Regions from separate parts of the Homo sapiens genome. Here region 1 is linked to region 2. Evidence: fine-mapped expression QTL. Tissue or cell type: esophagus muscle. Region 2 holds a variant in brackets; the other region holds the start of a gene. All regions are shown on one strand. Distances are from middle to middle. Region 1 holds the start of SCN7A (sodium voltage-gated channel alpha subunit 7). Region 2 overlaps SCN7A (sodium voltage-gated channel alpha subunit 7).

What was found. PIP is the estimated chance that this variant, and not a neighbour inherited with it, causes the effect.
Region 1: SCN7A starts here. The variant in region 2 is the best candidate, but not a certain one, in a credible set for the expression of SCN7A in esophagus muscle (GTEx, PIP 0.63).

What each region holds. Positions count from the first base shown.
Region 1 is chr2:166,490,957-166,496,350 of GRCh38, reverse strand. It overlaps SCN7A (sodium voltage-gated channel alpha subunit 7), which reads left to right and starts at 2,102. Exons shown (of 26, transcript NM_002976.4): 1 at 2,102-2,383.
Region 2 is chr2:166,426,457-166,431,850 of GRCh38, reverse strand. SCN7A (sodium voltage-gated channel alpha subunit 7) reads left to right here. Exons shown (of 26, transcript NM_002976.4): 17 at 2,577-2,682; 18 at 3,909-4,063. Among named protein-coding and RNA genes, the nearest start is that of SCN9A, 53 kb to the right of the region's middle. The variant T/C (reference allele first, on the strand shown) is at 2,317.

The DNA.
Region 1 (5,394 bases), 64 kb before region 2:
CTACAATAGGATTCAAATTGTGAAAGTGGGAATTGATAGCAGAGATGATTTGGAGAAGAAGATAATCCATTAAGGATGAAATCAGAAGTTAGGCTGTTGGATGCTTCATCCAAATAGTTGTTGGTATTCAAATGGATGAGAAAGTTTTTAAGAAGGAAAGCAAGAGTTTGAATGGAGGGAAAGACTGTCAACCACAGAATAAATTCTTAATAAATAAGAGTGTCCATAAAGGCAGAACATAATGGCTACCATGTAGCCAGGTAGAAAAAGATGATGAAACTGGAGAACATATCTCCAAAGAAAGAGTTTTGGGTTTGTTTGAGTGTGTTTTGGGAGAGTTGTTTGCTTGTCTTTTTATACAGGGTTTTGTCAACTCTGGATGTAGAGACTTTTTTGAGAATTAAAACATCGAGTCCATCCACACTTCTGACACTGACATCTCTGAGGTCACAATAAACAGCTCCCATTTAAACAGACTGAAAGGAAGCTAATGCCCACAGTGGCGTATCGAGTTCAAGTGTAGTGTGATACAGCCAGCTTCTCTCCTGACACAGAAGAGTATGTGGGGTCTAGAGCTCCCACCTACTGAATACATACTTAGAAAGTAGAGTTTAGAAATATGCTTATAAAGTTCTTAAGGCAGAAATGTTGAAAACAGACCCTCCACTATGTAGTTCCTCCTGCTGAGAAACTCAGTGGGGGAGGAAGGATCCTCAGCTCATTATTAGGGGCACGATAATTGCCAAAACTTTTCAGATCCAACCTGGTAATATTACATAACCGTTATATAACCGTAGTGCCAAATATTTGTCCCAAAACAAATATTTGTTCCAAAACAAGAAAATGGCTAGCTAACTCAGAATATAAAACCAACACCATTAGTTTCCCATCTATTTGCCTCTCATTTATGTGATTGGTTTGTACAATATCTTGGGATCAACTGCCTGTTCATTACACATTATAAAAAGCAGTACTTCTTTTTATTTATTTTAAATATCACATGGAAACTTTGAAATATTTGATATTAAGTTCATTAAATTTATATTGTGTTTGAATGTACAGAAAGGTGTGTAGAATTTTACTGGGTGAAAAGGGATATATGTGTCAGACTGCTCTAAGGGAAGGTTTTATGCTCTAGAAAATTCATTTGCATCATCACCAGAGTGTGGAGAAGAGAAGCCTGCAGTCAGTCAATTGTCCATTATAAAGAAATCAAGTGAATGTTTGATGCTACAAAATAATTATTGCTAATTATAGATGTGATCAGGGTATTGAGTTAAAATCTTAAGTTCTTACCATTCAGAGACATATGCTGATATATTTTTGAAGTAAGTGATGTGATGTGTGCATAAAATAGGGTTACAAAATGAAGGTTCTATGGTGTGGCCTTTGGGAAGAAGGTGCAACCCCTCTGGCCTTCACTCCCAAACTACACTGTATTGCCGCAGTTTTCTAAAATAAACATAATTTTTCCTCTGTCCCTCGTGTTTCAAATCACTAGAGTGGGAAACTGATCCAGAGTAAAAGCCAGCTCCAGCTGACTCTTGACTCTCCTAAAAACAGCTACACACATACTCACACAACAACAGGATTACAAACTCTTAATTACAGCAATGTCCAGATTTGAATGCTGCAGGCTGACAATTGCCCCTCTAAGTTCTGCTGGGGCACCTAGGCAAGGGGAGAGAGAATACAACTGGAGGTTAAAGAACCAGAGTTTTCTGTCTTCCTCTCCTCTCCCTCATTTTCACTCTCCCTTCCCCCTCAGCTGCACCGCGCTGCTCCTTTTCCTCTCCTCCTTGGATGTTCCCTAGCCCCTTCATTCCTTCACGCTCTGCAGGCCCTCTCCCCTCTACCCCTCCTCATCAGCCCCCCGCTCCTCTTCCTCCCTCCCTTCCCGGCAGCTGCTGGAGGAGACGCCACAGCTGCTGCTGTTACTGCATCTGCAGCAGGTCTCTGTCAATATCACCCGCCCACGCCCGATCTGGATGCTGAAGTCGCTCACTGGCCTGGAGATTAGGGCGGGGGAGAGAGTGGAGTGGCTGGGAGAGGGGAGGGAGGAGTGGAAAGGAGACAAAAACAGCTTCCAAGCAGCGGGCGCGGCTCCACTGGACATCTGGGTAGGAGGGGTCTCTGGGTCAGTGGCTGGAGAGTCGCCCCAGTGAGTCGGTGTCTAACTGGCCATTTAGTGGGGCCCATTTACTGCAGAGCCACAGCTGGTGAGGACAGACGCCAGCCTAACAGCAGCTTCTGTACAACTAGAGCTCAGAAAACCCGAGAGATCCGTGGAGAAAGAGAAGCCCAGGAGGAGGAAAGGGCTCCAAGGAGCCCTGCTCCTGAAGGGTCCCTCAGGCACTGGTGGAGACCTGTCGCTTCGTAGCAAGTAAGTGCCTTTTTCTTGCTGCTGTGTCCAGTCCCAGAATGGTGATAGCCGCTATCCGCTGCCAGCCTTTCCCATCCACTCCCACCTGCCCCATCCCATACACACCCTTAGGGTCCCCAGCAGGAGGACAGAGATTTGAAATTGTGGACGTGCATTAGGAGAGTTACTTCAAGAGTATACTTCAAGAGCAGCCGTGGTCTGTGGGTGTTTGCATGGCATGTGCCGTCAGTTTTCTAATTCCATCAGGTAAGCTTCTGAAACCAACATTCTCTGTTAGTGTAAAATTCTAGAAACCCTATATGACAATGACTTACATTACATGGTACAATGATAGTATAAAATGGAGGAAAGGTTATGCAGATTGTTGTACACTTCTTCTAAGAATCCTATCTCTTATTCTAAATAACAGAGATTTCAAGATTGATTTTCCCAAAGGAATAGATAGTATAAAAGTAGAGGCATTGATGTGATTGGCAGTGGTGTGCTCAGTTTAGTCAGTTGGGCATTTTGGTATTGACTAGATCAACAGAGATTGTTGTTGTTGTTTTTGCATTGTTTTGCTCTATAAAATGCATCTCTTCTGGAGGTTTTCTTTTAGAAGTGATAGTGTGACTGGTTGTGTTAGCTTCAAAACTTAGAACATTGGTCAAAACAAGACAAATGATGAGTGCATGTGGAATGACACACCGATGGGCCCCTTTCATTAACGAAAATGATGGGTTCCAGTTTGGATATTGGACTGAAAAATATCTTGAAATGGGAAAGAGTTTGGGTGGTGCTTCTTGTGGATACTTTACCCCACTGCTGTTCATTCAGGAGAGCAATTTATGGCAAAGTAGAAGGAAAGTGGGCCCTGTAATAAACAGAATCCTGGGCACCATACCTGCTATGACTAGCCTTAATTAAAGATTCTATAATCCAGCTGCTGTTTTTACAAGTAAGACCTATAAGGAGTAATTTGCTGAGGCTACCTGGCAAATCAGTAATTGAGCGGGAAGTCCAATGAACAAGTCTTTGGGATTTAGAACTACAAAACTTGATTTCAATTTTTGTACAAATTAAGCCAATTATTTAACTTGAGTAAGCTTTATTTTCTTTATTTATAAATGACACTCCAAAAAGTCCTGACAAAAACTAATTGACAGAGATGATATAAAGGGTTTATGAAAGTACCATATGTGTAACTGTTGATTACATAAGGGATTATTCTGTGTTTTTATCTACTTCACTATTCTGATTTTCCTTCTAAGTCTGATTCAATATAAGCATACAGAGGGCTTTGACATGCATCTCTAGAATGCACTAGAGGAAGTGAAATTCAAATCCTTTTCTTGCCACCTGTACAGTTTAAAGCATATTCTAATCTGAAAGCCTTTATCCTCAAAAAAGTGAAAAGTGTGTGCTTTGGCTAGCTTTGCATATTTAAACCTTGTAATATTCTCCAAATATGCTTTACCCTCTTTCTGTTTTTAGTTTTAAAATTGATTTTAGGTCTGTAGTCCTGTTTCCTGGGGATGAAGCCATCACGTATATTGGATATTGCTGAATGTATTTGGCCCGTTACTTAACATAGGAGAAATCAAAATTTAGGCATAAATACTCTAATCTTGACTGCAAAGATTCATTAAAATCTTGCACCTGGGGGATAGGTACTGTGAGTCCCTTCTTTCCCATGGATATGTTTAAAGTAATAGAAGAAAGAACTCAATTTGTACATGGGCTCAGGAAAAGGGGTCATCAGATCCCAGATGGCACACGACCGTTGGACCTGCTGCTGCATATCAGTCTCTACTGGAGTACTGGAGGCAGAGCCAAGCACTTCAAAACTGGGCATTCTGTCTCCGTAGCCTCGTGTGGTAGATGGTTTGGTAGCGGATATACACTCTCACTGATTTTCCCAAAGTAGGATAAATACCTGTCCAAAGCATACTAGAAATAAAAATAACAGTATTTTCCCCAATCCCTTACTCAGGGATTGGGAAATCTGCACTCCAGCCCTAGATCTCATTGGGTTGAGATACGTGTCACAACTGGGGTATTCAGAGATTGACTCACCATCTACCTACTGCCTTAGACTCCCTCCTGAAAGCTTATGGTGGAGGCATTGGGTAAAAGGGACATTCTTGATTTCTGGGAGTCTGATCCCATTATTTCCACTAACCATTTTCAGTATTTGTCAGTGTGAGAAGAACATCTATAACCTCTGCCCACCCCCACCCCCACTCCAGATATCAGCAATGCACAGTCACCCATTATCACATGAGAAAATCTTGTACAAACAGATGTCACTTTTCTTTTCCTGCGTTGGTTCCTTCTCTTCTGTTAGTGAGGACTAACCAACCAGACAAGTGAGGTCTCATTGCAGCAACATTGAAAGAAGGAGCCTTTGAAGTTAAAGATAAGATTTCATCTGAGGGCTTCAGAGGTTATTTTTGAGTTGGTGCATATCTCTTGACCCAGCTAAGATTATTATTTTACATTCATTTGTTCAATTATTGTTTATTACAAATGAGGCGCCATCTTCTTATATTCCATCCTGAAATTCCTAGCAAACAGATATCCCTGTTGTCTCTGCAGTATTTATAATTGGATTGACTCAGCCTGGTGCTGGACAAGGATAACCAGCTCAATGGACGGCTCTGATGATGGTGTGGGTCAGGTGCCACACTGACTGCCTAGACATCAAAGAGCTTGATAGAAATGCAGAAGCTGGGGCCCCACTCATGGAAATTATGATTAGAAAGGTCTGATATTATGATAGGGCATTTGGTGTTAAACTAGAACAGGAGGTGATGCTGATTTGGGGGCCATAGACCCTAGGTGAATATATTGTGCTGAGTAGAGTAGTCTGTCTTTCCTATTTTAAATGCTAAGGTGAGGCTTCCAGTCCACCAGCTGCTCACTCTCTGAGTTCTCCCAGAGGCGACATGGTCTAAGCACTTGATTACAGGCTCTTGCCCATATCTACTCTCTTTCTCTGGCCCTGGGGCTCCATGTTGGACATTTTTTGC
Region 2 (5,394 bases):
TTCCTTCTTGCTTGCTAAAATTCTAAGATTTGAATCAGATCATTTCTGCCCATATTTGGACATTATAATTAAGTTGGACTAAAGGAATTTTTAAAACCTCCCAGTTTGAATTTTGAACAGTTGGTAGCTTTATAACGCACTGGCTTTAAAAAAAAATCAGAGTCGCATTCAAAGAAGGGTAGATACTGCTGTTCACTTAGCTTCTAAAATATACACCCTACTGGAAACAGTCTTATTGTCTCCATTTGCAAGCAGCTTGTGTTTTAGAAGGAGGTGTAACTTCATAGAAAGCTACACCTACAGAGATCACATCTGCACAAGGGCTTTTTACCTTGGACCCCACTAGGGAATCATTTCAGATCACTCAGGGGCACTGGAGGGTCGGGGAATGTGTCTTTACAGGTCCCCATCATCTGTGGCACCATCTTGTCTCCCAGACCTCTTCTGTTTTGGCAGATGCTCTCTACAATAACTTCACAAATTGTCTTCTAAGAGGAATTCAGTTTCAATTATCCAAGGTCCTTCCATCACCTACTAAAGCCATCTTTATTTTAGTTAGAGAGACATTTTTAATCCACATGCCCAATAGTCTAAGATTCATTTACCTTTTAAATTAATACCATTGCTATAAAACAGGCATAAATTCTTACTCAGCACACTTCTCAATCTTCGTTAAAGATTTGGATTACTATCCATTTCTGGGTGAAATTGCTATTTACCACAGCACAGCATGTTGGAGTGTCCCTGAAAACTTCATGCTAATCTCCTTAGAAATTCTGGAGTATGAAAATACATAGGAAAGCTGTAACTTAAAATAACTGTAAATATTGAAATTGCAGTTTTTATTTATGCTGCATAGTTATTTGGTCTTGCTGGTTGATTAACTACTCACAAAAGATGTATTCATTTATTTATATATTTAGTTACATATTTAGTTAGATGCTTTCTAGATTATGTAGCCCATGACTACTTAGGATATTGATATACCCACAGCCAAAAATAAAACACAAAAATATTATAAATGATCTGATAATTCAGAGATACACTGTCTTGTTTCTTTGCTATTTGTACTTCCAGCCTATTTTTATTAAAAATATGCATATATATTTACATATTATAAAAATAACATCAAAATTTACATCGTGTTTTGTAACTTGTATTTTTTGTAATGCAGAAGTATATCATGGTCACTTTATGCCATTAAATAATCTTTTATCAAAATAAATGATTTATAATTTGAGTCTTAATTGATTTATTTGTAAAATTAGAAAAATACCTACTCACCGGTATTTTGGAAAAATCACATCAAATAGGATATGTACAAGGCTTTTTACAACTCTTTAAAAATATAAATTTATGATGTATAATTTTAATTACTGTCAAATATTATGTTTAAATTACTTAATGCCTAGTCTCAAATAAATATATTGCTACAGATTTTATTTCATTAGAAATAAATAAAGAATATATAAAAGTAATGGAAATAAAAATATCTGTGTAAGAATAATATTCTGCTGGATACTTTACTTTTTTTATTTGAGCACTATAATGATTTACTGACAACTGACCACGTAAGAACTAAAGCAAAAAAAGCTTTCTAATTATATTTCCTTGACACTTACTGTGTATAAGTCTAAGAGGTAGGACAAAATATTGACAATTTCTCTGGTTTTTTGGCCGTCTACCTAGATTTTTTTCTTAATTTTTATGAAATAAGATTGGTTTCATTCCAAATGTTAAAATGCGCTTGCCTTAATTTTTGTTTTAATTAGAAAATATTACTTATATGCTATTAACCTTAGATCTTGGTGATTTTAAAGAATGATTTACGGTATCCTTATTTTAAAATAAGGTAAAATAAAGTATTGTGAGAAAATAATTTTAAATAAAGGCAAAGAGTATCATTAGCACTATTACCTATGTAAAGCAATGACCACCTTATTCTACCCAGCCTTGAACTTCAGTCAAAAGCAGAGTTAGAAAGAAGGTCAATTCTGCATCTGGGTGCTTTTCATAAGGCTGTGCCCCTTTCCCAGGCCTGTTCTTGTCCCTATTTCTTGTGCCTTTCCCTCATTTTACTTCATGATAAATCCCATCCTGTGATGACATACATAAGACCATCTGGACTGAATTTTACAATGAAACCTAGGTGCACTATTATCTACCCATCTTTAGCATCAAGGGATGATTTGTTCTGATTCTACTCATCTAATTGAAATAGCATATATGGGAAACTTGTGACTTACTCCAAGAAAACTTTGGAACCCCAATCCTTTTGTGAATTGGAGACAGCCTATACATCTTTAAGAAGCAAAG[T/C]GTTATAAACTAAACATGAATTTTAATCTAAATGTTATTTTAGCTTAAAGTAAGTATCATACAATATTTTTTTAAACTTCAACTCTTACCAATATGTACGCATTTTAATCTCAGTCATGAAATTGGCCTTAAGTCTTTTAAACCTAATAATATTATTTCTGTACAAAATTTTTCTTACTTCTGAAAATGAAATAAACTTTGGCCACCATGGGTAAATGAAACTTTAATCACAACTTTTTTGGTGGGACTTCACCTTTTAGAAAATAAAGCAATCTAGCTCATCTGAATGCAGTACTGTTGATATTGCTATCTCTGAAGAAGAAGAAATGTTCTATGGAGGTGAAAGATCAAAGCATCTGAAAAATGGTAAGAAAATTTTGTTAATCTTGCTAGGAAACTAATTTGAATTATAAGTTGTCAAAATGTATATGTTCCATATCCAGTATGTCAGTCAATTGACTGAATCTTTATACATTTCTTAATATTCATGTTAAATGTACAAGTGTCACCATTACAACTTGTTTTCCTCTGACAGTTATAGGCCATTTTTATATGAGTAACTTAAATATTGGCCCTATTTCATGAGATCTAAGAACACTTCATTTGACTTCAACATATATAGGTATATGTGTGCATGTGTATGTGTATACACAAACATCTCAGTGCTGCTTTAACTATACTGATTTTCTGTTTTACTCCTAAATTGTGCTCTGTTCTAAAGCACACAGTGGTATAGCTACTAGTATAAAATCAAATATGAACATTATGTATCTTTACCCAATATTACTCACAGCATGAAAAATGTGTTTTGGAATCACCATTATTAATAATATTCCACTGCCACAATACTACTCATAGTATAATTTAACACAAGACAAAATTCCAAAATAAAATGTTTTGGCTTTAAACTCCACCTACCTCCATTTCTTTGTTTTGTCACCTGTATATCAACCTCTTCTCCAGCCTCAGGTTTCCATTTTGCTAACCCTTTTGGCCAGAGCGCAGAGTGCAGCCCCGTACACATGTACTCTACCCACAAAGTACTCCACAGTCCATGTTACTTCCGTAATAGTCTCAATAAAAATTCCCATTTTCATGCCACCTAAGAACTGGAATCAAAGCAATTAATTTGATTTAACTAATTTTATGCCTCTTAACATCTCATAAGTATTTATATTTTTAAACAGGAATGCATGTTATACCATGTGAATCTTCAAAGAGTAAATTTTCAGGCATTATATCAAAATGTAACATTCAGAAATGAGATATTTGTGTGTATTTTCTTTTGTGCTATTAGTGAATACCTATTCTCAGACTGTTTTGCAGAGTGACAACATGTTGTAGGTCATTTCTGCCTTTCACAATGCCTTTCTTTCATTACTACCGAACTCCTAAGTCCAGTTTTCCTTTTCCTGCTCAGGGATTACAGTGGTCACTACACCATGGGTAAAAATTAAATGTTTATAAATCAGAGACAACCTGGATTAGAATTTGTAAATAAATAATTGCTGTGGCACATAGTAGAAAGTTTCAGTTGTTTACTTTTTCATGAGTTTTCTAGATTGTTGTTCTTACCAATTCAATCTTGACAGGTTGCAGACGCGGATCTTCACTTGGTCAAATCAGTGGAGCATCCAAGAAAGGAAAAATCTGGCAGAACATCAGGAAAACCTGCTGCAAGATTGTAGAGAACAATTGGTTTAAGTGTTTTATTGGGCTTGTTACTCTGCTCAGCACTGGCACTCTGGTAAGTGGGCAGCCAGGGTGTTTGATACTTTGCTGGGGACAAATGTATCATGATTCTGTTAATTCAGAAAGTCAAAACCAGGATTACATTTCCAAGGATATTTAGTATAGCACCAAATAGCACCAAATTTCATAATCTGTGATTTAAAATCTAAATAATATACTTTCTTAGAAAGTTTATATATGCATCATTCAATATTAAATTTAATATTGATTTTTAATATATTATTTTGCAATATTGAATTCCAAAATATATGAGTGACAGTGGGAAATGGAATGTGAATAGATACCGGATTCTTCTGATTTTAATGAATTTTCATGTATGAAACATTTTAATGATTTGCACATCCAAAACTGCTATAATATGCTTGTACTTTGGTACCTATCAAAGGAAAGGGAACTATTGCATATGCTTTAAAGGGTCTGTGAACTACAAATGTATTTGACCCTACAATCTTAACTCTGCGCTCAGAATCTTAATTCTAAAAATATTCTACAAATATCTGCACATTAAATGGTTCTACAAGGTAATTCACTGAAGAATGTTTTGTAATAATAGCAAAGGGTTAGAAAAGAAGGTCTGTAATAGCTGACTTTATACTATGAAAAATCATCCAATGGAACTCTGTGCAGCTATTTTAAAAATTCAGAAGCTATGTGCATATTTACAATTCATCAAGATGTAGTAATAAGTGGAAAAAGAACGGTGTAGAATAAAGTGTATGGCACTCTGCCTTTTATATAGGAAAGGAATAAAAATAGAATGTATATTGGTATTTGTTTGTATTTGATTAAAGAAGATCAGAGATCTTTTAAGGAGAATTCTTACATACAAGATCTAGTTAACTGTGAGGTGCACAGAACACAGAAGATGGAGTCATGGTTGTGAACTGGACTTTGCACTGCCTATATTTTTAAATAAATTTTGTGTTATTTACCACACATATTGAAAACTCTCCATGGGTGTGCAGCAGGAATGATTTTCACAATGTGAATGCACGTTTGTGACTTAGATTGAGAAACAGAACATTTACCAGGATGCCAGAACAACACTCTTACCCCTCAGTTACTTCCCTACTCCACAAGGGTAGCCAGCATGTGGACTTCAACTGCCATAGATTAGTTTTATCCATTTCAGACTTAATAAAAATAGATTCAAACTGTGTGTTACTTTTGTATTTCTTCTTCCTCTCATTTTGTTACAGCATCCCACTTCCTCATAATGATCAGAGTCAATTATCCTTGCTGGTATGGTAACTTCTTTCTTTCTTACTAGTTGACTGGTACAAGAAATCAAAAATTAAGCAAATGACATCTAAGCTTGAATTTTAG